3 separate regions of the Homo sapiens genome follow, and all the other regions are linked to region 2. Evidence: fine-mapped expression QTL. A gene starts in region 2. Each other region holds a variant in brackets. All regions are shown on one strand. Distances are from middle to middle.

Evidence for each region. PIP is the estimated chance that this variant, and not a neighbour inherited with it, causes the effect.
Region 1: its variant is fine-mapped to the expression of TIGAR in whole blood (INTERVAL, PIP 0.98).
Region 3: its variant is fine-mapped to the expression of TIGAR in thyroid (GTEx, PIP above 0.99). The same link has a PIP of 0.9 or more in iPS cells, prefrontal cortex and prostate.

What each region holds. Positions count from the first base shown.
Region 1 is chr12:4,284,457-4,294,455 of GRCh38, forward strand. CCND2 (cyclin D2) reads left to right here. Exons shown (of 5, transcript NM_001759.4): 4 at 4,386-4,534. Among named protein-coding and RNA genes, the nearest start is that of CCND2-AS1, 13 kb to the left of the region's middle. RefSeq lists enhancers at 1,995-2,044, 9,159-9,660, 9,661-9,999. The variant A/G (reference allele first, on the strand shown) is at 5,428.
Region 2 is chr12:4,316,754-4,326,752 of GRCh38, forward strand. TIGAR (TP53 induced glycolysis regulatory phosphatase) reads left to right here and starts at 4,460. Exons shown (of 6, transcript NM_020375.3): 1 at 4,460-4,550. The coding sequence starts at 4,519. It also overlaps the pseudogene RPS15P7. RefSeq lists an enhancer at 4,052-4,705 and a silencer at 4,171-4,550.
Region 3 is chr12:4,347,796-4,357,794 of GRCh38, forward strand. TIGAR (TP53 induced glycolysis regulatory phosphatase) reads left to right here. Exons shown (of 6, transcript NM_020375.3): 4 at 2,024-2,101; 5 at 3,472-3,582; 6 at 4,465-9,999. The coding sequence ends at 4,896. Among named protein-coding and RNA genes, the nearest start is that of FGF23, 27 kb to the right of the region's middle. The variant C/T (reference allele first, on the strand shown) is at 5,200.

The DNA of each region.
Region 1 (9,999 bases), 32 kb before region 2:
CCCTAGGCCCTGGGACGGCCTCTGTTGCCCATGGCAAGGCGTGTGGCTGCTCCTGCTCTCTTCAGATCTCCAGATGCAGCAACCTGGAGAAAGGCCCTCCTGGGTCTGGTGGGGACTGGGGCAGGAGTGGAGGCTGCCCAAGCTCCGTGCACTCCACGTTCCAGCTTGGAGCTTTTTGAGTCTACTCTCCAAATCCTTCCCATCTCCCTGAAGAGTCTTCTGAGAAGTGTCTCAAATGCTCCTCTTCACTCAAGAGCCTCCTTTCTTTTTTTTTTTCTTTTCTTTTTCTTTTTTTTTTTTGAGACAGTCTTGCTCTGTCACCCAGGCTGGAGTGCATGGCACAATCTCTGCTCACTGCAACCTCCAACTCCCGGGTTCAAGTGATTCTCTTGCCCAAGCCTCCAGAATAGCTGGGATTACAGGCGCGTGCCACCATGCCTGGCTAATTTTTGTATTTTTAGTACAGACAGGGTTTCACCGTGTTGGCCAGACTGGTCTCGAACTTCGGACCTCAGGTCATCTGCCCACCTCGGCCTCCCAAAGTGCTAGGATTACACTGTGAGCCACTGCGCCCAGCCTTCAAGAGCCCCCTTTCTTTGAGAAGTTTCTTCAGAAGTTATCCATATAGTAGTACAGACCTAGCCATTATAGCACACCATCCTCTACTATCTAATGCATTGATGCCCAGCCTTAAGAAGTCTGAATATTGTACGTTTTGGGGGGAGTCCTCCATGCTGCCTGGAACAGGGAGGAGCACATTGTCATGAGTCGATCAGAATGGATCGCTGATCGGTTCATTGCCTCTCTCTCTGCTGCAGGAGGAAGGATCTCAGGAAGTCACCAGCATCTCACCTCTCCAGGTGGGCAATTAACGATGGCGAGGGCACACCCTCACCCCTGAGCGTGCCTTCTGCACCAGCATATTGCTTGTTGGCATTTTTGATCAAGAGACTTAACAGACTGCTGAGAAATTTGTACCTGGTTTTTATTTGTTAAAATAATATTACGTACAAATTTTACAAACTCATCTGTGTTTCTCCCACCTAACAGAACAGCTTTTATTTTCCGTGCATCCTTCCAGTTCATCCATAGGCATATATGTATGTATTTACCCATGGTTGTAATCTTCATCGTCGCATGCATGCATGCAATTTGGTTTTCCGCTTCCTTCTTCTGAGTGGATATTGTGACCATTTCTCCATCCTGTCATAGCGACAAAGCTGATGGTTTCCAGGAATGGCTGCATTGGGTAGGTGGAGCTTTCCACAGTTGAGGGTGGGGGTTGGCTAATTACAGCTAGGAAGCTAGTGCACAGATGAAATGATGTTTGATTTTTTTGTTTTTCTCTCTGTTCAGTATCCCCTACCAGTAGAGAGGGGGATGTCCTTGAGAGTGGTCCTGGGGCAGCCCTGGTGCCACGGGGAAGTAGCGCCGCTCTGTGGAGAGGGCTGCTTTGTGAATTTGCCGGCTGGTAGACACCGTGATCCATTCTATTGTCTCCTCATTGTTCTTCTCCTTGGGAGTCATTCCCATTCCAGATCCTCAAGTAAGAGCAAAGTAGACCTGTAAGGCACCTGGGAGGTTATCCTGCTTACTATCTTTAAACTCTTGACCTAAGCCATGTAGGAAGAAACACATTTTATAACACAACTCAGGATACTTGTACAAGTATATCAAACTGATACAAAAGTTTCTCCGAACAATATTTACTCTTAACGACATACGGTGAGCCTGATACTTTCTATCCTACTCTATTTGGTTAAAGGAGAACAACAACAGAAAGTGCTGGTCACGACCCACAAATGCATTTCATGACCCATTAATGAGTTGCAGCTAGAAGTTAGAAAAACACTTATCTCACCCAACCCGTTATTAGACAAATGGGAAACCAAGCCCTTGGAAAGAGGAAGTGACTTGCCCACAGTCCCACGTCTGGACCTAGCTGGAGGGCTGATGTTGCCTCAGTATTTGACTAACCTGGAGGAGAGGTGGGGCATGCTCAGGGATCCCGAGGAAGATGCTCGTCTTCTGTGTAGCGGGCAACAGAGGGCAGCACGGCCGCCGTCCTCGTCTCCAGCGGCGTCTCTCCTCTGGCTGTGGGAACACACTGCTCCTTTGGTGCCACTCTGAGCTGCTGAGAGGCAGTCAAGTTCATGCACATAGTGCTCCCCAATTCTGTGGGATTGGACAGTGTCCCCAAGAGGACTCCCCTGAAAATCTTCTTAGTAAAACAAAAAGGGAGGTAGAGTCTCCCTGTGCAACCGGTGCACCTGTTCCCCCTATGCCTGCTGGCTTCCAGAAGTTCATTCGTATGCCAATAATAAGAGTTGGTTTTGCTAGCAGTGGGACAGCAGAGATGGGCATGTGTGAGGTGTGCTTCCCGGTCTGAGGCCTATGGCAGAGGGAAGGGAGGGCCGGGGATACTTGCCTGCCTCTTCCCTGGCAGATGCTCCCACCCGGGCCTTTGTGGGCCCAGGGCCATGGGCCGGCTGCCCCGCTTGTGTTATGAATGTCACAGGGGGGAGCTAACGAGGTTATTGGGCAGAGAAACACTCTCCTGTGACCCATGTGGAAGAGACCTACAGCAGAGCAAGAGGCAGGGAGGCTGGCTTTGTCACACTGTTCATGGCGACAGAGAAGGCGTAGGAGGGGCGGGTGGACAGCAGGCGTGGGCGCAGCACCATTATATACGTCCCTCAAGAGGTGGAGATGGTGAGAGGGCAATGGAGAAAAAGCCAAGGAGACAGGCAGATGGCCAGGTTTGCTCTGCGTTCATGATGGGAGGGGAGGGCTGTGCTTGGCTCAGGGATCCACGGTGTCTAACAATGCTGCTAACTTGATGCTGGGGCAATGGGCTGACCATTAAAAGAGCTGCTGTAGAAAGTGTGTTTGTAATAGAGTGTGTACAGGAGGAAGGGGAAATAGGAGAGGGGCTGGTTTTTGTAGATTTAACCTGATTGTTTTTGCTGTAAGTTGAAGGGTGACCCACGGTTCCCTGTATGCTGTGTCTCCTGCCCCCACGTGCCCCTTCCATGTCTACACACAGTAAGCTCACTAGAGCAATGCTAAAACGAGAAAGAGTACGCTTTGGAAGACTTGCTGCACTCCAGGACCGTCACTAGCGTGATGGCTGCAACTATACCCACCCTAATATCTGTCAACACGAGCAGGGGCAACTTAAACTCTCAAAAGTCTCAGGGTTCTCACCCATACCATTAGGGTGACGCTCGTGTGCATCTTCTGTGGCTGATGGGTAAATTAAACAGGACGTAATGTGTAGCGTACTGCATGTGGTGGTCATTGGTAGCTGTCAGCAGCTGTAACAGGAGAAGTTGGCTGTCTTTATTTCCCCTCGATGGACCAAGCAGCTGCTGGATCATGGCCACCCAGCCCCTCTGAAGGAGTGCTCGGAGGAACACAAGGGGGCTGGTCTTCCAAGAGGAGCCCTCTAGCATGGCAGTGGACGGGGTTCAAGCCCCTCTGATTTATTATCCTCATTCTGCACTTCCCTGTAGCAAGTCACATTTTTTTCTCTTAGCAATAAAATGGGGCCTTCAGTCTCATGAGTCATAACATCGAAACCGAGTCACCCATCTGATTCGGATGCAATGATTAATCTTCAGTGCTTAGTTAGAGCCCTATGTTAGGGTTAGAATCCTCTGCCCTAATGTTCTGAGGGTTCTTGCTGTTGGGCCAGAGGTTGGGAACTGGGTGGAACTCAGCCCCCACTCGCCCACTCCCTGCATTGCTGCTTCTCTCATTTCCTTTTTTAGATCAAACCTTTTTTTTTTTTTTTTGGGTGGGGGTCATATTAATCCTCAATGCCTGTCCAGAGACTATAACAAGATCCCATCTGAATTAGCATTATGCATAGATTTTGCCCGTTTCTCCCATCTCCTTGTACTTTCCCTCCTTCTCACATCTGGAGCCCCTGGTCTGTCCTGCTTGCATGGCCCATGGGGTACCTTGTCTGCACTGGTCTCAGGCATTCTCTGCTCTGTTCCCACCATCACCTCTAGAGGAGACTATGACTCGCTCACCTTGCTCCCCCCACCAGGGTCAAGAATGTTAACTCAGACATGCTTAATATGACTGGGATCTGGGGATTGGGGACCTTGAATCCTCTGTGCATTCATTGTGTGCGCTTAGATAAGCTGTCTTCCTTCCCTGCCTCAGTCTCCTTCGTTTAATCTGGAACAGCCATGGTGATGGCAAATAAACACAGGCTCCTTGTGAAAGAACTCGAGGGAGGACATGCCTGTAGGGCACGGGGTCACTCGCGCCGCTGACCTGCTGCCGTCCTGTTTCTGAGTCTCTGCAGTCTCGGGAGCTCCAGGATCCAAATTCGTTCTGTGCCCTGACCTTCTGCCTCTCATTCCTTGCAGACTTTAAGTTTGCCATGTACCCACCGTCGATGATCGCAACTGGAAGTGTGGGAGCAGCCATCTGTGGGCTCCAGCAGGATGAGGAAGTGAGCTCGCTCACTTGTGATGCCCTGACTGAGCTGCTGGCTAAGATCACCAACACAGACGTGGTAGGTGGCCACCACCTTCTTGGCTAAGTCCAGATGTCTCTTCTCAGCTCAGGGAAGGAGACGACGGATTTGATTATGTTGTGTCAGAGGTATTTTTCTGGTTTGTTTCCTAAGATCGACATCCAAGGGAGTGCAAAGTTCAGCAGGTGACACCCCCTCTTAAGGTTCTGAAAAGCTGTGCACGGGAAAATACGGAAGAAAACTCAGCAAGCAGATGAAGGGGGTGGGGGTGGGAGGGCTGTTTACCGATGTTCCTTTATGGCGTGGGCTTCTCAGTGGGTCTGAATTGTTGCTTCATTGCCATATTTGTACACGCTGCCAGGCTGCCTCTGCCCGGCAGCGAAGAGCTGCCGTGTCTGCTTTCACACGCTGAGGCTGTAAGGCGCACAGAGGAGAAAGGAGAGCCAGGACTCAGCTGCAGTGGATGGAGCAGACACACAAGAGGTGCCCCACTGTGAGAACGGTGTCCGTCCCTGGCAAACCTCTCGACCCCTCCCCGCTCTCTCTTCCCTTTTGTTCAATGCAGTAATGGATTACAAAGTGCTTTCAAAAGACAAAGTGCCATACAAACTCAAGAAACTATTATTAGCTACGGAGCTTCCCCATTCTGTGTGCCCTGTGGACGGCCCAGAGGCTGTTAACTTCCTGTTGCCAGAATTTGGAGCTCCTGAGAAGAAAGGTTTTGAGAGAGACCAGGGTCAAGTGAGCCTCTGAATTCAATCAGCAGGAAGCTGCAGTCCTAGCCCGTCCGAGACAGGATGGTGCCAAGAGGTCAGAGAGGCCATTCCTTCGTTTTCCACGGGCAGGACAGGGACTGAAGTAACCAGCCAGGAGCGGGGTGGGCAGTGGCTGAGCTGGGGCTAGAACCCCCAGGCTCCGACTGCCCCCTGGAA[A/G]CTTCCCACTCCACCCTTGTTGCCGCTCCTGGGATCTTTTGGTTTGAAAAAAAACCCTGGGGTTTAAAGTCAACCTGAGAGAGGGGTGTTGGCCCTGAGCCCTCATGCATCACCATGGAGAGGCTGAAGAATGCTGGGCACTTCACGATGACACCCTCTGGATGGTCCGGGGGGATTCAGATGCCCTCTGCGGGCTTTTATTGAGTTAAGGGATCATGTGGTTTATAGGCCTATGGCTGAGGCCTGCACGAGGGATACGGGACAGGTTAAACCTCAGAGAGCCCACGGCTGCAGCTCGCCGGCCTCCTCGCCCGCCCACCTGGATTTTCCCTGGCATTTGTTCCCAGCTCAGAGAAATGGCGCAGGGAGATGCTGACGGAGCAAATCCGGGGTCCTCCTCTGAGATAGTTCGTAGATATGGTTTTAAAATGCGGGCTCCAAACATACGCTTTTTAAACGAGGACTCCAGAACACAGACTGAAAACCTCCCTCCAGTGCAGCATGAAGAATGCTTTTCTAATCCTCCAGAGGAAAATCGTGGACGGGACTTAACGTTTATAGAAATGGTACGCTTTCCTCCTTTTCTGAATGTCTCCAATTAAGGCTGCCTTACAAATAGGACTCTCAGCCAGTTTAAGACAAGCCCTTCCTCAATGCCTGGAGACAAAAATGTCAGTGACAGGAGTTGGAAGCGGCCACCCCCCTCCTCCTGCCCCCAGGCATTGTAACCTTTTCCCCCGATGTTGATAGACCTGCTCTGATGGGCTGACCACCCTACCGGCTCCAGCCTTTTCCCACCTCCCTTTGTCCCCCGTTACTGATCTCACATGGACAGTGGTGGAAATTTCCCTCCTGGGAGTTGCTGCTGAGTCTCTTGGCTTTTCGAGACCGCAGGCAAGTCAGTCCGTCATCTCATCTGGGGAAACTGTTTGCCTTTTTCTGATACTACGTAGCCAGTCCATTTAAGTCAGCTGGCCAACTCTGTTAAATGGATATGAAGTGGGTACGAAGCTGGTTTAGGGGTGTCCTCCTATAAATCCTAACTGTTGGTCAAGTTGATACCTCATTTCTATAATGGGCACACGCCGTGTTTCCTAACTGGGGCTGCCTGTGTGTGCCTCATTCACACCGGTGGACCTGGGTTGAACATGTTCATATTTAAAAACCAAGAGTGAACGCGGTGAAATGTACAATTCATAACACTTTTTCAAAGAAAAATCTGAGCCCTCAGGAAGTTCCAGGCTTACCTCTGGCACCCCGGAGGCTGGTTCGCTCTCCCTGAAAATGTTTTTAGTGGAAAGGTTCAAGCAGCTCTGGGCTAGGCTGTGTGTGTGTGTGTGTGTGTGTGTGTTTATGCACCTTTCCAAGTGCTAAATCTCCTCCCATCCATCAGCCTGTGTTCTCTGAAAAGCTGACGCTCAGAGGGAAGAAAAATAAAAGGACTAGAATTTAGAACACATTAGTGTTTGGAGGGAGGTGAGTTGTGCTTCCTGAGCTCTGTTTACCATTTCACGAGTCACGAAGTGGTGTATTTCCTTCATTCGTTTCTGGAAGTCTTTACTGAAGGCCCAGTTGTTGCTAGAAGTTGGGGTGGATGGTGGCATCTGGGAAATAGAGGATGAGATTCCTGCCTTCAAGGAACTTAGCAGTTGTATGATGAAGCAAGAGTAAAGCGTGCAAAACCCTAGCAAATTAAGAACGTAAACAAAGGTGTGCTACGTAACGTGTTACGAACCCTAAATGCAGTAGGAAATCAACCCAAAAGAAGGAGCTCATCAGGCCTAACGTAGAATGCCGGCCTCCCAGCAGAGAAAACTTGGTGATAGAAACTGTTCTTAGAGTAGAGAAACAAAATGTATGGGCACGCAATGGAATATTATTCAACCTTAAAAAGAAATGAAATTCCGATCCATGTTATAACATGGGCGAACCTTGAAAATACTATGTTAAGTGAAACGAGCCAGACACAAAAAGACAAATACTGTATGATTCCACTTATACCAGGTACCTGGAATAGTCAAATTCGTAGAGACAGAAAGTAGAATAGAGGTTCCCAGGAGTCTGGGGAGAGGAGAGGATGGGGAGTTAGTGTTTAATGCGTACGGAGTTTCAGTTTGGGATGATGAAAACAATTCTGTAGATGGAGAGTTCTGATGGCCACACAGCAGTGTGAATGTACTTAATGCCACTGTACATTTAAAAGTGGCTGAAAAGGGAAATTTGACATTATGTGTATTTATGATAGTAAAATGTGTGTGTGTATATATGTATATACACACACATACATAAATGGATATATATATATGTATGTATGTATGTCTGAAACATTCTCGGGCCACGCTATGAAATGCCCATAGGTTGATGTTGAGCTCTTCCCTGGAAAAGTGAAATACACAGGACCACATTTTGCCCCCTGGCCCTAGTGCATTGACAAACGGGAATCAGGAAGAGCTGACAGTTTCCCCCAGAGCCCCTGAAGTTATATGTCAGCTCCTACACACCTTGCTGTTTCTGATTTCTTCAAGCTTGCAATGCTCTCTGTTACTTTGGGGGTTAGGTCGTGGGTTGTCGGGGATCGAGCTGTGGAAAGAGGGTCCCCCTGATTCTTGTGAGATGGCCAGGCGAGTCTCTGTGGTTCATTGGCCAGGAGCAGATAGCTTTGATATGAGGGACGCATGCGGCTCTGAGAAAGTCGGCCTTTGTTGCTCCGTCTGGTTGCCAAAATAAACCAGAACGCTTCATTCCAAAGAGAAAGCTGAGTGAGGGGCCTGACAGTTTTATAGGGAATAAACGTCTCAGAGAGTGGTATATTTTAAATACTTTTTCCTTCCAATCGTAAGAGTTGCTAAAAACAGCCAGAGAGGCAGTTTGGCTGTAGGGGGGACGTCTATTGGGGGTGTCCAGTGCCTGGGTAGGTTTGAGAGGGGAGGGTGCCACTGGCCTGGGTCCCCGGTGACCATGGCCCTGCTTCCTTGGGCTGAATCGGGGTCCTCTTCCATCCCCTCTGCACACTAGTCGGGCTGCGTGCCAGCATTGATCTCACTGCTTCCTTGTCTATAGAACCTCTTGAATAAGGCCCAGCTTTTCCTCAGCTCTTTATCCAGAGCCCCTGGCAGAGTCATTGGGAGTGATGCTTAAGAGAGGAAGGGAAGAGGAAGGAAGGAGCAAAGGACAAAGGCAGGCAGATGGGTTTCCAGTGGGTTTCCGATTCACTGGTCTGTCCATGTCCTTTGAAAAGCTGTGTCTTTTCTTTAACTTCAATTCTGTGTCAGGGCCTTCCGAGCCTTCTGAGTTTTCCCCAACCTTATCTTAGAGTAGGTTAAATGAAGTGGCTTCATTTTCATATGACACAGTTGCACAAATTCACTAACTAAAAAATGGAATGGAGGCTCACAGGCCATAAAGGTGTTGTGAAGTTATTGCAAGATACTTAACAGAAGAAAGACTCTAGTCATCTGTTCCTTATATTTATCCTTTTTTGTCTAAGTCACATCAAAACTCTTTGTCACATTCTTTAAAAACAAAAAGCAAAAAACAAAACTTTAGATTCAGGGGATCCATGTGCGGTTTGTTACGTGGATATATCGTGTGATGCTGAGGTTTGGGCTTCAGTCGAACCCGTCACCCAGACAGTGTACACAGTACCCAATAGGGAGTGTTTCAACTCTCGTCCCTGTCCCTAGACACATTCTTAAATATTGCCCAGAGAAGATTCCAGGATATCCCTTCCTTAGGGTCATCCTGGCATTTTACGGTCCTGGTTATCAATGAGCTATTAAAAAGCAGGGAGGTGGAGGCGCCGTGGAAGAAGTCTCAGTTTCGACCACATGTGTGTGATTCATGGGGTTTAGCATTGTGTGTTTCTGCTCCGTAGCTGGAAGTGCCGCCACCCTCGCCCCACATGTCATTTTCAAGCCTCCACTGTTACAGATTCTGTCTTCTGTGGACTCTTCAGGGCCTGTGGTCAGGAACCTTGTGAAGTGTTGCTGGAAGCTGGGGGTGGGGAGGTGGAATAGAATCGGGGGCTGATGCCTCCCTCTCCTGCCTCATTTTTCTGTGGGCCTCATTTGGTATGCAAGGAAATAAGCCAAACAGCCTGTGAAGAAAGGAAGAATGAGATAGTTTCCTAAGTTGTCTCTGCCTGAGTTGGCCGCGGGTCTGGGGCTCATTCAGCCCTTTGTCCCCCTGTTGAGTGCAGTGCGTGTGTGGTGACAATGAGGTGGTGCAGTTACACTGAGGGCTAATGGTAGGAGTTCCGTCAGCCCATTCATGGAGGCAGAGGAGGGTGCAGGGCGCGGAGCTCGAGCCAGCAAGCAGAGGAAGTCAGAGGCCCTTGTAACGAGCTGAAGATCACAAACACTGCTGTGAGGGCTCCAGGCTTGGGGGCGGGGGCAGCCAGGAGGGAAGGGGGCAAGGGAGGGGGCCTATCATCATAGAAGTTGGAGGTCTGCCCGACCGCCAGCGCGGTAGGGTACCACCTGTCCAGGCTGACAGACGAGCATTATGGCTTCCCTTTTAATCAGCTTAATTTGGGGCATCTTAACACAATGGCTGGTGCTTTGGAGGCTGCAG
Region 2 (9,999 bases):
TGGAAGGGCAATCCCTGAACCACTGAGTGAATAATGCAGGACAATGTCCACTATTTTGAAGACACCTCATTTTTCAACCTGGTTTTTGCCCCTGATTAGTTTTTCGTTGCTGTTTTTTTTTTTGTTTTTTTGTTTTGTAGCCGTGGTCTCGCTCTGTCGCCAGGCTGAAGTGCAGTGGCACGATCTCGGCTCACTGCAACCTCTGCCTCCCGGGTTCAAGCGATTCTTCTGCCTCAGCCTCCTGAGTAGCTGGGACTACAGGTGCACACCACCACTCCCAGCTAATTTTTGTATTTTTGGTAGAGACGGGGTTTGCCCATATTGGCCAGGATGGTCTTGATCTCTTGACCTAGTGATCTGCCTGCCTTAGCCTCCCAAAGTGCTGGGATTACAGGCATGAGCCACCGCGCCTGGCCCCTGATTCTTAAAATTTATGAAGAATTGTTTTTTAATTTATTCCTTAGATAATTAAAAGAAATAACATTGGTGGATGCCTTGCAACTTTCTAAATTTCTCCTAAAACAATAATCCTCTCCAATATGTCAGCTTTTTTAAATATGTATGCTTCATTAGACAAACTGATCATAACAGGTATTCTTCATTCATTTGACAGATTTTAATGGAATCTCCACTGTGTTCCAAACATTTTCTTAGGAACCAAGGAAGTAATGAAATAGAGCCAGTAGTTACCCTCATGATTTATAGTTTTGAAACCTGGAGTATACTTATCTGGTCTCAAACTCAGTTCTGAGATCTTGAGAGATGGGAAATTAGTTTTTGTTTGTTTGTTTGTTTTTGGAGATGAAGTCTCACTCTGTCGCCCAGGCTGGAGTGCAGTGGCATGATCTTGGCTCTGCAACCTCTGCCTCCCGGGTTCAAGCAATTCCCCTGCCTCAGCCTCCCGAATAGCTGGGATTACAGGCACCTACCACCACGCCCGGCTACTTTTTGTGTTTTAGTGGAGGAGGGGTTTCACCATGTTGGCCAGGCTGGTCTCCAACTCCTGAGCTCAAGTGATCCGCCCGCCTCGGCCTCCCAAAGTGCTGGGATTACAGGCGTGAGCCACTGTGCCTGGCCCAAGAAATGGGAAATTAGTTAACCTGTATGTGCCTTAATTCTTCATCTGTGAAATGGAAATAACTCCTACCTTGCAGAGTTACTGTGTGTATTAAATAAGACAAAATGGGAAGCTGTTTTTATTTAGGCGTTAGAAATGCACTTGGACCACCTTAAAGTGAAAGAGGTTTTACTATACAAACCGGAACTTTCAAGGTATCTGGGACTATGGCAGTTTGAGCGACCAGTGACTGGGTACTCCTTGCATTACTCACTTGTGTCTGTGTCTCTCTGTGTGTCTCTTTGCTTCTTCCATTGACTTTGCTTCTTCGTACCCTCTCCTCTGTTCTCTCACTTGTATTATTTATGGCTTCTGTTTCTTCACAGCTTCAATCACCATGCCCCTTCATAGCCCTAACTCTATCCTATGATTTCTTTCTGTGCTTTCTTTCTGCTTCACCCCTCACAGATAACTACTTAATTTCATTTTTTCAGCTCAAACTTCCAGGAGAATCTGCTGGGATGATTCATTCATTTGGGCATTCAGAACACGGACACGGACACACACACACACACACACACACACACACACACACACACACACACACACACACGATATCTGGGCCCCACTGTTAGGGCCCTCTGAATTATCCCTCCACTCTCATCCTGAAAATGCCTCCTGTTGACCTGCAAGCTGTTAGAGATGCTGAATTTGGTCCCCACTCCAATCTACTAACTCCAGAATCTACATTTTAACACTATGCCCAACTGCTTTGTGTGCACGTTCGAGTTTGTGAAGCATTGCTTTAAACTGCTAGCTCTCAGAACAGCCACTTGTATGTTGGAAACAGCTGGGGATTAAAAGCATACAGATACTGCTGCCTGAGTCTTTCCCCCAGAAGTTCAGATTTGATTTTTCTGGGGTGTAGCCTGGCAAAGGTCTCCAGACGATTCTAATGTAAAGATAGGTTTGAGGACCTCTAAACTAGTTCTGTGTCACCGCTGACCAGTTGTGTGAGCCTAGACAAATCGCTGTCTCTCTCTCGGCCATATTTCTTTTTTTTTTTTTTTGAGATGGGGTCTTGCTCTGTCACCCAGGCTGGAGTGCAGTGTTGGAATCTCGGCTCACTGCAACCTCTGCCTCCCGGGTTCAAACGATTCTCCTGCCTCAGCCTCCCTAGTAGCTGCGACTACAGGCACGTGCCACCATGCCCGGCTAATTTTTTGTATTTTTAGTAGAGATGGGGTTTCACCGTGTTAGCCAAAATGGTCTCTATCTCCTGACCTGCAGATTCTCCTGACCTGCCTTGGCCTCCCAAAGTGCTGGGATTACAGGCGTGAGCCACCATGCCCGGCCATATTTCTCATCTCTAAAGTGAAGATAATGTAGCCTATCCTGTCTACCTTAGAATTGTTCAGAAGGCCAAATGTGATATTACATGTAAGACTGTTTTGAAATGTGTGCCTATGAATCTAAGTATCTCATTCATCTCTTCTCTAAACACATCTTTTCATATATAAGTGGGGATTCAAGGAAATAAATGCATTATGAAATACAAGAATTTAGGTAACAGTGCATGGAAGACAATGTCACCTAGCTAACATTATTGTTACTTGTGTCACATTGCTAGGTACTGCTATCCCAGTTTACCTGTCACAAAACCCAGGGTTAGAGAAGCTCATGTTATAAATAAACTTTCAGTGCCACAAAAGAAATAGCACTCGAATATAAAATTTTCTTTTTAATTCTCAGCAAGGCAAGGTACTTCTATAGAAGGGTGCGTCCTTACAGATGGAGCAATGGTGAGCGCACACTTGGACAAGGGAGGGGAAGGGGTTCTTATCCCTGACGCACGTGGCCCCTGCTGCTGTGTAGTGCCCCACCGCACAGGCTAAACTAATTCCGATTGGCTAATCTAAAGAGAGTGATGGGGGTGAGTGGTTTGGCGGGAAAAACAGTTATGACAGAGCAGGTAATCTGAGTCAGGGTGGCGTAGGTAATGGGAAGGAGTCAGGGTGGAGTAGGTAATGGGAAGGAGTCAGGGTGGAGTAGGTAATGGGAAGGAGTCAGAGTGCAGCAGGTAATCGAAAAAGGTTGTGGCCGGGCGCGGTGGCTCACGCCTGTAATCCCACCACTTTGGGAGGTCGAGGCGGGCGGATCACGAGGTCAGGAGATCGAGACCATCCTGGCTAACACGGTGAAACCCTGTCTCTACTAAAAATACAAAAAATTAGCCGGGCGTGGTGGCAGGCGCCTGTAGTCCCAGCTACTCGGGAGGCTGAGCCAGAATGGCGTGAACCCGGGAGGCGGAGCTTGCAGTGAGCCGAGATCACACCACTGCACTCCAGCCTGGGTGACAGAGCCAGACTCCATCTCAAAAAAATAAATAAATAAATAAAAAAGAGAAGGTTGCTTTAGGAGGAAGTTAAGTTTAAAAGTAAAAAGCAAAGAATTGAACATACTGACATATTGATTCTTTGAAAAGAAATTTAGAACTCATATCTAACATGAAGCAACTCCCTCAACGTTCTGAAGGCTATTAAAGAGAAATTATTCATCTGAGGCTTGTTAAAAACGGCAAGACTTTACTCAAGACTACTGCAATAGGTGAGAGAGACTGAATTCGACTCTAGAATACAACCGGGACCAGTGGAGATTTATAGCCAGGGGGCGGGATGGAAGGGATGAAAGAGAAGATGGGAAATTACCAGAACGTGGTAAGCTATCTGGGGGAGGGGGAGGAGGAACTTTACTAGATATCAAGGGCCTTAGAAGAGAGCATCAACAGTGAGGTCTCTCTTGATAAACAGGCTTAGCAGGATTCTTTGGTAAAACCAGGCTCAGCAGGCCGAGGATGCCGTCTAGTATAGAAAAGGCCTCAAAGGAGCCCGACTAAAGTTTGGTCACGGAGGGCGTCTGTCCCGGCGGAGTTGGGGTGGGTGGGTCTAAGTCTACAGACCTGGCCGACGCTACGTCCCTAAGGTTAGGGACTAACAGACCTCATAGAACACAGTCTGTTGGTCGCTGTACACCCGTGAGGGGTTCATCACAGTGGCCAGCTATAAGACGAACGGTTGCATTCCAGCCTCAATCGCAACAACCACAAATCAGTGCGCCGGCTTCCTTATCTGCCCCGAACGCAGGCTGCCGGCTATCGAGGGAAGGAATCCTACCGCGGACTCCGCGGGCGGGGCCTCCCGCACCTGCCGCGCGCCAATCACAGGCCGGCGCGCAGGGGCGCAAGCGCCGCAGCCCTGGGCGGGGCCCCCGTGGCTCCCTCGTCTCCCCCGCCCCGTCGGCCTCGCCCGGCCCTGAGTGGCCTTCGGGGATGACGTGCGAGGCCGCCTCGGCCTATGGCGGCGGAGCCGGCCGGCTGCTTGGCGGAAGTGGTGTGGGGGAGGTAGCCCGCAGTGCAGGGGCAGCGCGGCGCGGGGCCACCGACGGGACGCGGCTCCGGGAACATGGCTCGCTTCGCTCTGACTGTTGTCCGGCAGTGAGTATGGCTGTGGCAGGATGTCTTTCTCTCTCTCTTCCTTGAGTGTGTTGGAGCGGGTGAAGGGAAAACGGGTCCACCACCCTCTCCCCTCCCTGCTCGCTCCAGCCCGGGAGGGCTGGCTTGGAAGCGCTTTTTCCGGGGCGCTTGCCCTGGGGCCGTCCCGTGTCGCCCCTCCTCTCACCCCAGCAGCCCCGAGGGACGACGGCAGGTCTTAGATAGCTTCGTTCCGTGTTTCAGATAAAGTGAGGCCCGGAGGAGCAAGGGATCGGGGTTCGTAGGCACTTGGTGGCTGCACCAAAAACGGTGCCAGACATGTCCACAGACTTGTCTGGGTACCGATTTTGCTCCCCAGCAGATTGCAAAGAGTTTGCAGAATTGCTCGTCCATGGCTGATGTTTTTGATGCCGGCTGCCTTCCGCTATCCTCTCAGTTTCTGAGGTTCCCCCTCGTTTCCCCAGGCAGTCAGCCCCCCAGGCACATATATGAGACTTCTTTCTTTTCCCCAGAGGTTACAGTTCTGGGAGAGAAAAGAGGATCACAGCTCTGATCTCAGCAGACCGTATCATCCCAAATAAATGTTTTTATTATCATAACGTTACACGGAGCTGCATGCTGATAGGTCTTTATGTATTTGCCAAGTGTTAACGGGAGGTGAAAATCAGGGTAGTTAAGAGCACAGATTTTTATTTTTATTTTTTTTTTTTTGTGAGATGGAGCCTCGCTCTGTCACCCAGGCTGGAGTGCAGTGGCGCTATCTCTGCTCACTGCAACCTCCCGCCTCCGGGGTTCAAGCGATTCTCCTGCTTCAGCCTCCCGAGTAGCTGGGATTACAGGCATGCGCCACCACGCCCGGCTAATTTTTGTATTTTTAGTAGAGACAGGGTTTCGCCATGTTGGTCAGGCAGGTCTGGAACTCCTGACCTTAAGTGATCCGACTACCTCGGCCTCGCAAAGTGTTGGGATTACAGGCATGAGCCACCGCGCCCTGCTAAGAGCACAGATTTTTCAGGCAAGGTAGACCTCGGTTGGAGTCTGTTCTCCAGCTAAGAGCCAGGTAGCCTGGACTTAAGTTTCCTGATATGCAAATGATAGTGCGTATCTCACTACTTTAATGCGAGAATTAAATGGGGGACAGGTAAAGTGTATGATGCAACAGGGAAAGAAATATATCTGAGAAATAACTTCTATAAAGAAAGCTCCAATAAAAGTGCAGTTGATTCCCAAATACGAACGTATAGTTCAGCACACCAGCATTTTGAGTAGGTAATGTGTGCCAGTAGACTGGATCATACAGATAAATAACATACCATTTCTGCATTCATGGAGCTCACAAAGGACATTAATATGATTTAACTTTGTCAATTGACTTTAACAGCTATCTTTTCTGGCCTGTCCTTCCTTTATAAGAAAGATAATCTTAAGAATCCTCTAAAATTGTCTGTTTAGGATTAGCAGGATTTTAATGGCTACCTTAGAAATCTAGTTCCTCACTATCTCTTCTCCCACCCCTCTCGGTTGTATAGAATGCCTTGGGAGAATTCTTAACTTACTAAAGGTCACACAGCTAATCGGTAGCAGAACAGGAACTAGAGGCCTGATCACCCTTTCTTCCAATGTTAGTGCACTTTCTAGACGCCTGACCCAGCCAGCCCAGTGTCATATTTATAATTGAAACTCAGACCATCAAGGTGGTTCACCCCTGTAATCCTAGCACGTTGGGGGGCGGAAGTGGGTGGATCCCTTGAGCACAGGAGTTCAAGACCAGCCTGGGCAACATGGTGAAACCTCCTCTCTACAAAAAAAAAAAAAAAAAGCTGGCTGTGGTGGTGCATGCCTGTGAACCTAGCTAATAGGGAGGCTGAGGCAGGAAGATCACTTGGATCATGTGAGCCTGGGAAGTGAGGGCTGTAGTGAGCTGTGATTGGGCCACTGCACCCCAGCCTAAGCGACACAGTGGGACCCTGTCTCAAAAAGAAAAAAAAGAAAACTCAGAAGTTGTAGAATATTTGGGGTAAGGCAACCCCTAAAAAGTAAGATGATTCCTATTTAGATTCCTAATAGACAATAGTCATATAAATATGGATTTTATTCCCTTTCTGCTGCTTAAAAAGGGTTTGATTCCGGAGGCCCTCATAGGAATCATTTAAAAAATAAGTCTTAATAAATGATTATTTGCCAGGCACTGTTGTAATTAAAATCTGACAGTTTAGTGAGTTAAGGACTGATATCCTCATTTTTCACATGAGGCAGCTGAGACAGAGACGCCTTGTAACTTGCTTAAAGTCACATGGCAAGTTGAGGAAGTAGGAGTTTAACCAAAGCAACTTTACCACTCACCGTCTTTTGTTTCCTACTTAATTTGTTAAAACCCGGTATTTGTAGATTACTTGAACATCACCAGCCATTTTTGAGGCTACTTTTTAGTCTCTTAATATAATTGTGTGGAGTTATGACAATAGTTTATTTTGTTCTGTTTTATGTGTAGGAAGATGGAGTGAGAGGGCTGGTTCAATGCTTTCCGGTCTGGATCCTCCTGCTTCTTGCCTTCAGAGTTCTCAAAACCAAAACCTGGTGATTCTTTCAGGAAAAGAAGTGATTTTTAAATTTGACTCATTATCACCATAGTTAAATGTAATGACTTTTTGAAGAGTTAGATAATTTTATTGGACTTACCTCTTCAGATAATGCAAAAAAATCTTTAAAGCAATTTAAGTTCAACAGAACCTGTTAGGAATCTTGTGCTGTTCCTGTATGTGGTTTATCTTTCTTCATACTTTGAAATGAAAGTACCAGTGTGTATCATTTCTGGAACAGACTGCCCAAGATTCCAGAATTCAAGTCTATCATCATTGTCAGACTATAACTTCTCATGAGCTTATGGCACAGCATTGTTGAAAACTCCAACACGTGTAGGTTGGCATTACCATCACCTATCCAGCACTACTGAAGGGTCTGGTTCCTTGGAATGTTGTAGGTGTTTGCAGTGAGTCCCCGGCAAAACCATCCATTTAACTTCCTTTTTTTTTTTTTTTTTGGAAATATGTGTGCCTTTATTAGCTGAGCCACTACTTGAGGGGGATGAAGCGGGAGGAGTGGGTGGCCCCGATGCCGGGCCGGCAGTGCTTCACCAGCTTATAGGTGATGGAGAACTCGCCCAGGTAGTGACTGATCATCTCCGGCTTGATCTCCACCTGGTTGAAGGTCTTGCCGTTGTAGACGCCCACCATGCTGCCCACCATCTTGGGCAGGATGATCATGTCCCGCAGGTGCGTCTTCACCACTTCCGGCTTCTCCATGGGCGGTGCCTCCTTCTTGGCCTTGCGCAGGCGCTTCAGCAGCGAGTTCTGTTTCCGCCGCAGGCCCGGGTTCACTTGCGGCCGCTGGCACGCACTGTACAGCTGCGTCAGCTGCTCGCAGGACACGTCCCGTCCCGCAGCTGGTCCAAGTCTGTGCCGCGGTAGGTGAGTTTGCGGAAGGTCCGCTTCTTCTGCTCTACCTCGGCCATCTTGTCGGATCCTCAGAAAAGTTCACTTCCATTTTTAGGCAGCTCGTAAAGCTTTAAAATTTTTTGGCAAACTAAATTTAATATACTTTTAATGATTTAAAAATGAATTAGTAAAGTTTTTTTGTTTTTGCTTTTTTTTTTTTTTGACGAAACGGAGTTTCACTCTTGTCACCCAGGTTGGAGTGCAATGGCATGATCTCCGCTCGCCACAACCTCCGCCTCCCGGGTTCAAGCGATTCTCCTGCTTCAGCCTCCGGAGTAGCTGGGATTACAGGCATGTGCCACCATGCCTGGCTACTTTTGTACTTTTAGTAGAGATGGGGTTTCTCCATTTTGGTCAGGCTGGTCTCGAACTCCCGACCTCTGGTGATCCGCCTGCCTCGGCCTCCCAAAGTGTTGGGATTACAGGCGTGAGCCACCCCACCTGGCCGAATTAGTAAAGTTACTGATAGCAAAACTGATTTTTCTTACTGTACTTTTATTGGCAGTTACTTTTTGTGTAATGCTAATAATTGTTCTGTATATTAATAAAGCAAGCAAAATACTATTAGCTCATCTGTAATTTAGTATTTTTATAAAGCTAATACTTTTATAAAATTTTAATGCTCTATAAAAGTATAAAGATACCTTGTACAGATACTTTATAAAGATCAAAGACAGCCGAAAGTCCTGCAATCCCAGCACTTTGGGAGGCCGAGGCGGGTGGATCACCTGAGGCCGGGAGTTCAAGACCAGCCTGGTCAACATGGTGAAACCCCGTCTCTACTAAAAATACAAAAAATTAGCTGGGCGTAGTGGCACTCGCCTGTAATCCCAGCTACTCGGGAGGCTGAGGCAGGAGAATCTCTTGAACCCGGGAGGTAGAGGTTGCAGTGAGCCCAGATTGCGCCGTTGCACTCCAGCCTGGGCAACAAGAGTAAAACTCGTCTCAAAAAAAAAAAAAAAAAAGAAAGACCACCAAAAGTCTTGTGTTACTAGCTCTTGAAATCTTCTATATTTGCAAATGAATGTATTAGTGTAAAGGAATTAGGACTAAGCTGTATTCGTGATATCAGGTGAGGGTTTACATTTTCATTTACACTAAAGAACAGCTTTCCCATGATTTGTTCCTCCTTTGTAGCACGCTGAGTATTGTGTGTTGAATTTGAATTCCTTAAATGGAATTAAGGGAAATTGAGGTTTCTGTATGATTTTTGAAGAAATGCTGCAGCGTATAAATCCAGGCTAACAAGATATAATGTCTTTTAAGAACTGTGAGATAACCTACAAAATGAATGATGTATATTTGTAGGGCCTATAAATGGCTGATCCTAAGACTTAACATCTTGGCAGAAGCACTCGGATTCCTGCAGAGTCAGGTTTCTGTTTTGGAAATGGACCACACTGCAGATTTTGAAAATGAGTGGTGTTATTCCTGACTCCTTCAAAATATATCCCTCTGACCTTTCAGCTCCGTTCACCTTCTCTGCTGCTATCACAAGTCAGACTTGGTTAAGGGAAATAGATTAATAGTAAAACTGTTTTAGCCATCAAGTTTCCTTTCCCATTCCCCAAACGTACTAATTAAACAGTTACTTCAAGGATTTATATAAACCTCTTAATAAAGCTGATAAAAGCTGTACAACTAAATATTTATGAAAGCTTTTGGAAAAAAATCTATTTTTGGATTCCTACTCTTTAATATTTATAAAGTGATTTGAACGCAAAAATGCCAAATAGAACTAAACTGAATGCTGTGATTGTTAATAATACTATTGAGTCTACAGCAGCCTCTGTTGATATATGGCTAAATGAGTCCTTCATTATATCACAGTGGTTATGCTGCTTTCACTGAAAATCGTTAGATGGTGGGGCAGTACTTTTATGAAACTATCAAATTTCTGGGATTCCATTTTTTATAAAATGACATTTTGACAGTGTAAACCTTTATTTTAATTTGAA
Region 3 (9,999 bases), 31 kb after region 2:
AATATATGATAATAACCTAAATGTAGCACGGCATGATAGATTTAAAATATGAGAGTTTAGCTGGGCACAGTGGCTGATGCCTGAAATTGCAGCACTTTGGGAGGCCGAAGCGGGAAGATCACTTGAGCTCAGGAGTTTGAGACCAGCCTGGGCAACATAGGGAGACCTTGTCTCTACAGAAAATAAAAAAGTTAGCTGAGTGTGGTGGCACTTGCCTGTAGTCCCAGCTACTTGGGAGGCTGGGGTGGGAGGATCACTTGAGCTCAGGTAGTTGAGGCTGCAGTGAATCGTGATTGTGTCACTTCACTCCAGCCTGGGTGACAGAGCGAGACCCTGTCTCAAAAAAAAAAGTCCCTTTAAAAAATAAATAAAATAGGAGACATTAGAAGACATGAAGAGCATGATGAGAAGTTCTAATGTCTTTCAGAAAGAGATAGCAGAGAGAATGGGAGGAAGAGGTGATATTCAGAGGTTACAGAATATTGACAATTTTACAGAATTTACAGAATTGTTGAAAGATCCAAGAAGTGTACCAAATCCCAACCAGGATAAGTAAAGAAACCCATATCTACATTCATTATAGCAAAATTGCAAGACTCCAAAGAATGAGGAAAAAACCATCCTTTATTAAAGACCATTAGTTAGGCTGTCAGCAAATTTGTTCATATTGATGATTTCTTTATTGTGCTGAGAAATAACAAGGATTAACCTAGAGTTTTATACCCAGCAAGATTTTTTTCTGCTGTGTAGGTGAAATGACATTTCAGACAAAGAGATTCTGAAGTAACTTTGAAAGGAAAAATGAAAAAGAAGGAAAATAATTGCAGAAGGGAGATCTGAGTTTCAGAAAAGAATAGTGAGCAAAGAAGTTGGTAAAGGTTTAGGAAAATACAAGGAAATATTGACAGTACATATAAAACAGTATGATGATGATGTCTAATTTGTTGGGAAATGTGTTTTTAAAAAAGGCAGATCATGGACCTAAATTATTTCTATGTGACAGGGTCGCTTGTCAATCAAAAATTGCTAGACTTACAATGAGAGAAGGAAATGTGAATAAAAATGAGCTAAAGACAACAGAAACAGCCACATGACTTACCCGATGGAGTTACCAGACATGAGCTTTAAAATAACTATATTTTTGTATAGGTGAAAGATGTAGAATTTCAGTACAGAACTGTAATAAACTGTAAAAAAGAGCCAAATGCAAATTCTAGAACTAAAAATACAATTGGAATTAAGGCTCAATGGATGGGTTTAACAACAATTTAGACACATTTGAATGGCGAATTAAGGAATTAGAATGGGGATTAGTAAACATTTTCTGTAAAGAGCCAGATAGTAATTTTTTTTTAGGGTTTATAGTCTATACAGTCTCTGTTAACACCTGTTCAAGTCTGCGGTAATAGCAAGAAAGCAGCCATCAACTGTGCATGAATGAATGCTGTGGCTGTGTCCCAGTAAAATACTTTATTTGCAAAAGCAGATGATGGTCTGGATTGTGCTGACTTCTGAACTAAAAGATAGGTTAGAAGAGAATATCAAAATCAGGAATGAAGAGACACAGATGTGTACACAGATGTACACAGAGAGGCAACTTTTGCAAAGGAAAATCATTTCTAGTTTTGTTTTTTTTTTTTGAGATGGAGTCTCATTCTGTCACCCAGGCTGGAGTGCAGTGGCGCAATCTCAGCTCACTGCAACCTCCGCCTCCCAGGTTCAAGCAATTCTTCTGCCTCAGCCTCCCGAGTAGCTGGAACTACAGGTGCGTGCCACCACATCCGGCTAATTTTTTGTATTTTTAGTAGAGATAGGGTTTCACCATGTTGGCCAGGATGGTCTCGATCTCCTGACCTCATGATCCACCCGCCTCAGCCTCCCAAAGTGCTGGGATTACAGGTGTGAGCCACCGTGCCTGGTTCTAGTTCTTTTTTATTCACTAAGATGACATAGATTCTTTCAGTGCTTCCACCAGAATGGTGATTATTTTTATAAAGAAAGAAACAATTGTCTTGATTTTCAGACCATGCATGGAATTTTGGAGAGAAGCAAATTTTGCAAAGATATGACGGTAAAGTATGACTCAAGACTTCGGGAAAGGGTGAGTAACTTATTTACATATTGTTCTTCCCCATAAATTATCAGTAAGCCACCTCAGTTTGTCACTTGGCTAAAAGTTAAATGCATTTCTGCTAGGGATTTCGAATCAGTGAAAATATTTAAGAATCTACCATATGACAGTCACTGTTACATACCCTCGTATATAGGATCTTATTATTAAAATCAAACGAGACAAGCATCTTAAGGTATAAAAGAAGGTACGCTCATAAGAACTTAACACAGTATAGAAGAGTTTAAAGTAAAGGTGAAAAATATGGATATTGCATAATTTATGTAACCTAGCTACGCTGATGGAAAGCTAGATTTTCACTAGACTACCACTGATGTAAATAATGTCAAAATAAACATCTTTGTAGTTAATTTATTGTAGACCTATATATTTCTAGAAATGGACATCGGCGAGTGTGTACTTTTTTAAAGGCATTTATATACATATTGCCAAGTTGCCTTCCAGAAAACCTGTGCCAATTTATAGTCCCATGAATGACCTAGGAGAAAGTTTTGTTTTTTTACACCAACAATTGGTATTATTAGACTCTGTGATTTTCCAATTTAATAGCTTAACAATGTTGCCATGTGGCTGGCGTGGTGGCTTACGCTTGTAATCCCAGCACTTTGGGAGGCCAAGGTGGGCAGATCACTTGAGTTCAGGAGATTGAGACCATTCTGGCTAACATGGTAAAACACCATCTCTACTAAAAATACAAAAAATTAGCCGGGTGTGGTGGCACGCGCCTGTAGTCCCAGCTACTCGGGAGGCTGAGGCAAGAGAATCGTTTGAACCCAGGAGGCGGAGGTTGCAGTGAGCTGAGATCGCGCCACGGCACCCCAGCCTGGGTGACAGAGCGAGATTCCGTCTCAAAAAAAAAAAAAAGAAAAAAAAAGAAATAGATCTCTCATGTTAGCGTCTCTGAAACTCAACTTCCTTATAACTATGGTGATATATTTATTTAGCTATTTCATGGTGCTGTCATTGGGATCAAATGGTGTAGTATGTGTGGATGGGAGATGGCTGAATTGGTACCTTGTGCATGTTAATCTCTAGTCCTATAATCTGTGCAAATCTCTGTATTTGTTCAATAAATTCCCACCATCTGCTTGCAATAGCAAGTTCTTCTAAAATAACCCATTTGGACATAGTGTACAACTTAAGATTTCAATTATATTTTCTAAGGTTCATGGCCCTCTACTGAGTACATTCTCATTATCAGTTCAGAGGAGATAGAATCAATTAAGTGGAGGAGAGTTAGCTTATTCCTGGGATGAATGTTCTAAATTTGCCATAAACATAAACTTAATTGTTATATTGCAATTTCATTTGAGAAACTGTTATCTATTGGACTGTTTCAGAAATACGGGGTTGTAGAAGGCAAAGCGCTAAGTGAGCTGAGGGCCATGGCCAAAGCAGCCAGGGAAGAGTGCCCTGTGTTTACACCGCCCGGAGGAGAGACGCTGGACCAGGTATGTGGCGCTGCCGATGTCAGAATGGTTGAATTAAGACTCAAAATTAGATGTTTTGGAATTTTAGCTAAGCAGTTTGAAAGTTGCTTGGTTCATTCTCTTTTCCATTTTAAATTATCTATTTACTTAGCAAATTATTCTTTTCTATTTAAAATCTTATTTACTGTTCAGTTGCCTTTGTCATTATTGATAATGGACTTAAGGAAAGGTGTTATTAGATGGTACTTCTAAAAAAGACCTTTGAATATGAAGCAGTGGCTTAGTGGTGGGAGTGGAGTTCAAAGAGGGTGATCGGCAAGTCACTCGAGGTGAAATAACTCAAAACATGAAGTCTTCAAGCCTCTGCTGCCTCCTCAGCTCTGTTCATGGTGGCATCCCTGTGCTTGCATTTCTTTGGAGTGTTCTGCTTCGAATTGCATATTGGTGATTCCCCCTAACCCACCACCACCTCCTTAATCTTTATCTTAATTTTCTTGAAAATACTTTCCATTACTTTAGTAAGGGAAGGATTTGTTGCTGCTGTTGTTCCAGTGGCACTGAAGTGCCAGAGACAGCTTCCTGGTTAGCACTGTTTTATGAGTTTCTGTTGGCTTGTAGATTTCCCTAACTAGACCGTGAGTGCTTTGAACTCAGGAATTGGGAATTGGATCTTCTTCATCTTGGTCTCCATGGTGCTTTTGTAATTCCAGAAATGTGGTGGATACTTATATATGTCCATGAAACTACTGATTGAACGAATAGAAATGTAGATTGATATTCTTCTGCTTGTGTAGTACTTGGCATTCAATATTAGAAAAAAATCCAGTCAGTTATGTTCTATGTTAACGTTTTAAGGAAGTCATTAATGTCACTTTATTTTGACTTTTATTTCTTTTCTTGTAGGTGAAAATGCGTGGAATAGACTTTTTTGAATTTCTTTGTCAACTAATCCTGAAAGAAGCGGATCAAAAAGAACAGTTTTCCCAAGGATCTCCAAGCAACTGTCTGGAAACTTCTTTGGCAGAGATATTTCCTTTAGGAAAAAATCACAGCTCTAAAGTTAATTCAGACAGCGGTATTCCAGGATTAGCAGCCAGTGTCTTAGTTGTGAGTCACGGTGCTTACATGAGAAGTCTGTTTGATTATTTTCTGACTGACCTTAAGTGTTCCTTACCAGCCACTCTGAGCAGATCTGAACTTATGTCAGTCACTCCCAATACAGGGATGAGTCTCTTTATCATAAACTTTGAGGAAGGAAGAGAAGTTAAACCAACGGTTCAGTGTATTTGTATGAACCTACAGGATCATCTAAATGGACTGACTGAAACTCGCTAAGGTTAAATCTGCATCAAAATCTAACCATTTTGAGCCTCTGAAGGGAGTGCCATTGGCTTTATTTACTTCTCTCCTCTGCTAGTTCTGATTTGGAAACAGTTAAAAGCCAATTTTTAGCTCCAGTGGAACCATAGCCACATAAAACTTTAATGGACAACCATATAGAATTAACTTATTTTGTCCAAGTACAGTTGGCATTTTCCAGAATAATTTTACCACCCTGCTAGATGTCATCTCTGGATTGCACATGGATGATGAAGGAACTCAGCATTGAAAGTTGGGGGATTAGTAACCTTGTTACAA[C/T]GGTTTCTTTTTCATTTTAGCCTATTTTAATGGCTATTGGTAAGATACTGTATGTTTTTAGTATCTCATCCAGTGCTTAGAAGAAAGAATGGTTTATAATTCCCAGTACATGTTTATATTGACTGTGTTATATTTTTAAATCCTTTAAATAAAAAATCCTTATAAGTTTATGTAAAGCAAAATAACACTAACATGTTTTACGTATAAATCAACTATTGGAATTTTTTATTCTAGAGGGCTTGAAATGTGGATGAATACAGATTATGATTGCAGAATGGTCTGGGGGAAGAAGTTAAAACATTTGATTTAAATACAGTAAAGAAAGAATCTTGGAGCAGAAGATAGAAGAACAGCCTTTTCTAAATAATGCCTTGCCAAAGTCAAGTCAATGGAAACCAGGAAAGCCAAAAAAATGAAGAATATCCACTTGCTTCTTATCTAACCTGTAGGCTGAAGAATTTCCAGTTTGAGGAAGGCTCTAAAGAAAGTAAACAGTTAACAGAACACCACACAGTAATCAGAATAAAAGAGGGGCCTTCTTTGTAAAGAATGGTGCTCTGGGCCGGGCCCAGTGGCTCACACCTGTAATCCCAGCACTTTGGGAGGCTGAGGCGGGCGGATCACAAGGTCAGGAATTCTAGACCAGCCTGGCCAACAATGGTGAAACCCTGTCTCTACTACAAATACAAAAAAGCCAGGCGTGGTAGCAGGCGCCTGTAATCCCAGCTACTTGGGAGGTTGAGGCAGGAGAATCGCTTGAACCCGGGAGGTGGAGGTTGCAGTGAGCCGAGATCGCACCACTTCACTCCAGCCTAGGTGACAGAGGGGATGACAGAGGGTGCTCTGCGGGCAGGGAAGGCGGGGTGGTTGGGGGGGAGAGAATGTTGCTCTGATAACCACAGCTGTGGTTATTTTGTGGCAGGTACAGGTGAGGTTGCCTCTTCTTTCCACCAGATGGCACTGGAGAAAAGGGATTTTGATTAACTTAATTTTATACACAAGATTGGTCTTTCAGAAATCTTTATCTAAATGAAGAAACTGTTCTACATGTAGTTCGCTTTTAAGTCACCATGTTGCTAAATGCTGTGAGTCTCAACTTTAAAGAGGGTTAATACTAAAGTTGTCAGTTAAGGCTATAGTCACATATAGTCAAAATTTACTTTGACATCATTTTAAATCATATGTAAAATTCAGTATTATATTGTTCTTAGTGTGTCTAGCACTACCAGTTTTCTACCAGTATTGAAACAGGGCACGTGTTTGAGCATCAGAGGAAGTATACTGTAAATAAAAATTTGAAAAATAAGCAAAAAGGACAGACAATAATTATCTCCATTCCCACCATACTGAAGTCATCTTTCCACTTTTTTTTTTAAAGAAACAAAACATAAAGATAAAAGTAGAGTTCTCTTTAACCAGCTCTCACAGTCCTGTTCCCTCCAGAGGCAGCCACTGCAGTGAGTCTGTGTATATGTTCACCTGTTCATCTGCTTGCAATGTTCATCTGTTCCTTATATTTTCACCTAGTGTCTGGAAGGAGATGGTACTGTTTTGGTGCTTTAAAAATAAATATCAAGCCATCTGTGTTCTTTATTTTTACTTATGTCTTGGAGGCATCTCTGTGTTGATATATATAGATCTAGTTAATTATAACCACTCTATTCTATTAAATATAGCACATTTTTGTTTATTAGTGGGCATTTAGGTATATTCAGTTTTTATTTTCTTTGCTTTTTTTCTTTTTTTTTTTTTTTGGAGACAGAGTCTCTCTCTGTTGCCCAGGCTGGGGTGCAATGGCGTGATCTTGGCTCACTGCAACCTCCACCTCTCGGGTTCAAGCAATTCTTGTGCCTCAGCCTCCTGAGTAGCTGGGACTACAGGCATGCACCACCACGCCTGGCCTTTTTTTTTTTTTTAGTAGAGACGGGGTTTCGCCATGTTGGCCAGGCTGGTCTTGAACTTCTGACCTCAGGTGATCCACCTGCCTTGGCCTTCCAAAGTGCTGGGATTGCAGGCATAAGCCACCGTGCCTGGCCTATGATGCATTTTTTTAATATGTGTTCTTAATTTTTAAGACAAACCAATATACCTTATCCTTTATGGGGTTTTTTTGGTGTGTATCTTTAAGAAGACTTCTCTACCATGAGGTCATACAGTAATGTCTTCTTACAGTTTTTGAGAACTTCTGAATGTCAAATCTTGAAATTGAAATTTGCTTTTTATAGTATAAGGTAAGAATTTAATTTTTTTTTTCATGTGGTTGAAACAGTTATCCCAACACCATTGTAAAGGCTGTTCTTTCCCAATTGGTTTGTGGTGTGTGCTCTCAGGCCTCACACCCCCTCATTTGCTAGAGTCTGTGGACTCTTTTAGTTATCTGTGTATTTCCTTATCAGTGTCATACTTAGTTACTGTGGCTTTGCAGCTGACTGTCTTAAAGGGTGGATACCTCCTCTTGTTCATTTTTAAAGTTGTCTTAACTATTTATGCACTTTTATTCTTCCATATAAATTTTGGAATCAATTGGTCAATTTCCAGAAAAATTCTGTTACAAATTTTATTGGAGTCACATGCATCTCTTCATCTATTCAATACGTATTTTTTGAGCATGGCACACACATGCCAGGCTATTTTAAGAACTACTACAACTATGATAAAGCTGTGAATATGTAGCCATGAACCAAAACAAAGTCTCTGTCCTTGTGGAACATTTGTTCTGTCAGAGAAGACAGTGTGTTGGCTCACATTGTGGTCAGTGCTGTTGAGCAAAATAGGTCAGAGTAAGGGGGATGGAGACTGGTGGGAGGAATGCTGCTTTATCCAGGATGGGCAGGGAGGACTCGATGGTGTCAGCACTGAAGGATGTAAGATCTGCTGCTCTGGGGAGAGGAGCAGCATGGAAGGAGTAGAGTGCAGAGGCCATGAGGAAGGATCAGGCTTGACTCCTTTGAGCAAGGGGGATGGGAGAGTGACGGGAGAAGAGGACAGGCCACATGGCCTGGTGGCCTGTGCTGAGGCCTTGGGCTTTTACTCAAGTGAGATGAGATGCCATTGGCCAGTTTGGGCAGTGATGTGATCAGACTTGTTTCAGCAGGACCATCCTGCTTGCAATGTGGAGAGCAGGCTGTAGGGGGTGCTATAGGAGCACAAGGTTGGAGGCAGGGAAGATGGCAGCACTGGCTGTTGGGCCATTTGAAGAAGCAAGGCCAGGGATGTTGGCAGGGACCAGGCCAGAGTGCCTCCAATGGCTAACTAAGGAGCCTGGACATTGAATTTCTAGGTTAGCTTAGGATTTCTCATCCTCCCATCTGTGAATGTCATAGATCTCTCATTTTGCCTGAGTCTTTTATGCAATGATATTTTATTTGTAATATTTTCCCGGTTTTTGATTGTTTTTTAACAAATGAATTTTTTAAGAGACTTAATTTTTTAAGAGAAACTTTAATTTCCCAGCAAAAGTGAGAGGAAGGTAGAGAGATTTCCCATCTATCCCCTGCCCCTACACACGCATTGCTTCTCCTACTATCAACATCCCCCACCAGACCAGTGCATCTGTTACCATCGGTGAGCCCACATTACACTGACATATCCACATCACCTGAAACCCATAGTTTACATTAGGGTTCATTCTTGGTGTTGCATGATCTGTGGGTTTGGACAAACGTATGAAGACATGTATTCCACCATTATAGTATCATGCAGAGTATTTTCACTGCCCTAAAAGTCCTCTGTGTTCCCTGTACTCATCTTTCCCACCTTGTCTTGCCTGTTTCTGTTAGGTTTAGTCCGAGGCCTAGCAGAGGGAATGGGCAGAAGTTTCCAGTTCCAGGCTTCACCCCAGGCTCGCAGCTTCAAGCAGAGCCTGTCGCTTAGGCTCCCTTGCACCTGGAGTCGAAACCATGGCTCCCATTCACCTGTCTCTTATTTTCCTGTCCTTCCCACTCCTCACTCACCTACTATTCATTTCCATTTTTGGATGAGGATTCTCCTTTATTGCTTTTTAACTAAAAACCTGTTTTAGTTAGCATCTTTATTCTAATTTCTTTAAATGCTATGTCATACTCAGCAAGGACATGCTCATATTAGGGGAAGCACATAAAGTAAGATATCCCTGAGAGAACAGTGCATCTCACACCCATTCCATGGCTTAGGCTTATGCAGGAAGTGCAATATTTGGCCATATCACTTAAGTACATATGCTTATATTATGTATACTTGCATGCATATTACATTTACAAGTAGATGAATTCGTGTAAGTTAAATGGTTCTATTATATGTCTTCACTATATTAAGGTCAGTCACAATTTAATTGAAATAGATCATCCTAGGTGAATCCACCTGGCATAATTATCAGCCCTGTTAAGCACAGACACAGGAGATGCAAAGGAAAGAAGTATTCAGTAGAGCGGTGGTGCTGGGCTGAGTACCTGCTATCAGACGCAGCACTTACCAGTTTGGAAATTGAATGGGGCTCCTAGAAAACATCCTTGTTTCATGTAAATGTTGCTTTTTACCCCTCTTTCTTTGGGCCCCATCAATTTGGAAGTACAGCTTTCAGATTGAAGTATGTGTCAGTTCCTTTGTGTCCAAACAAGATGGCTAAGTAGGTCGTCATGACAGGTAACTACCAGTGCTTTAAAAACTTTAGGATTTCCCCCCACAGTTCTCAATCACTTGGTTCATTGTTCAGCAATATGGCCTAAGGGGGTGATTTCTTCATTGATAAGTGACAGGGCAGGGACACTGGAAAGATCTATTGTCAGAAGGCCTGGATTCAGGTTCAAGGCCTGGTTCTTAGTA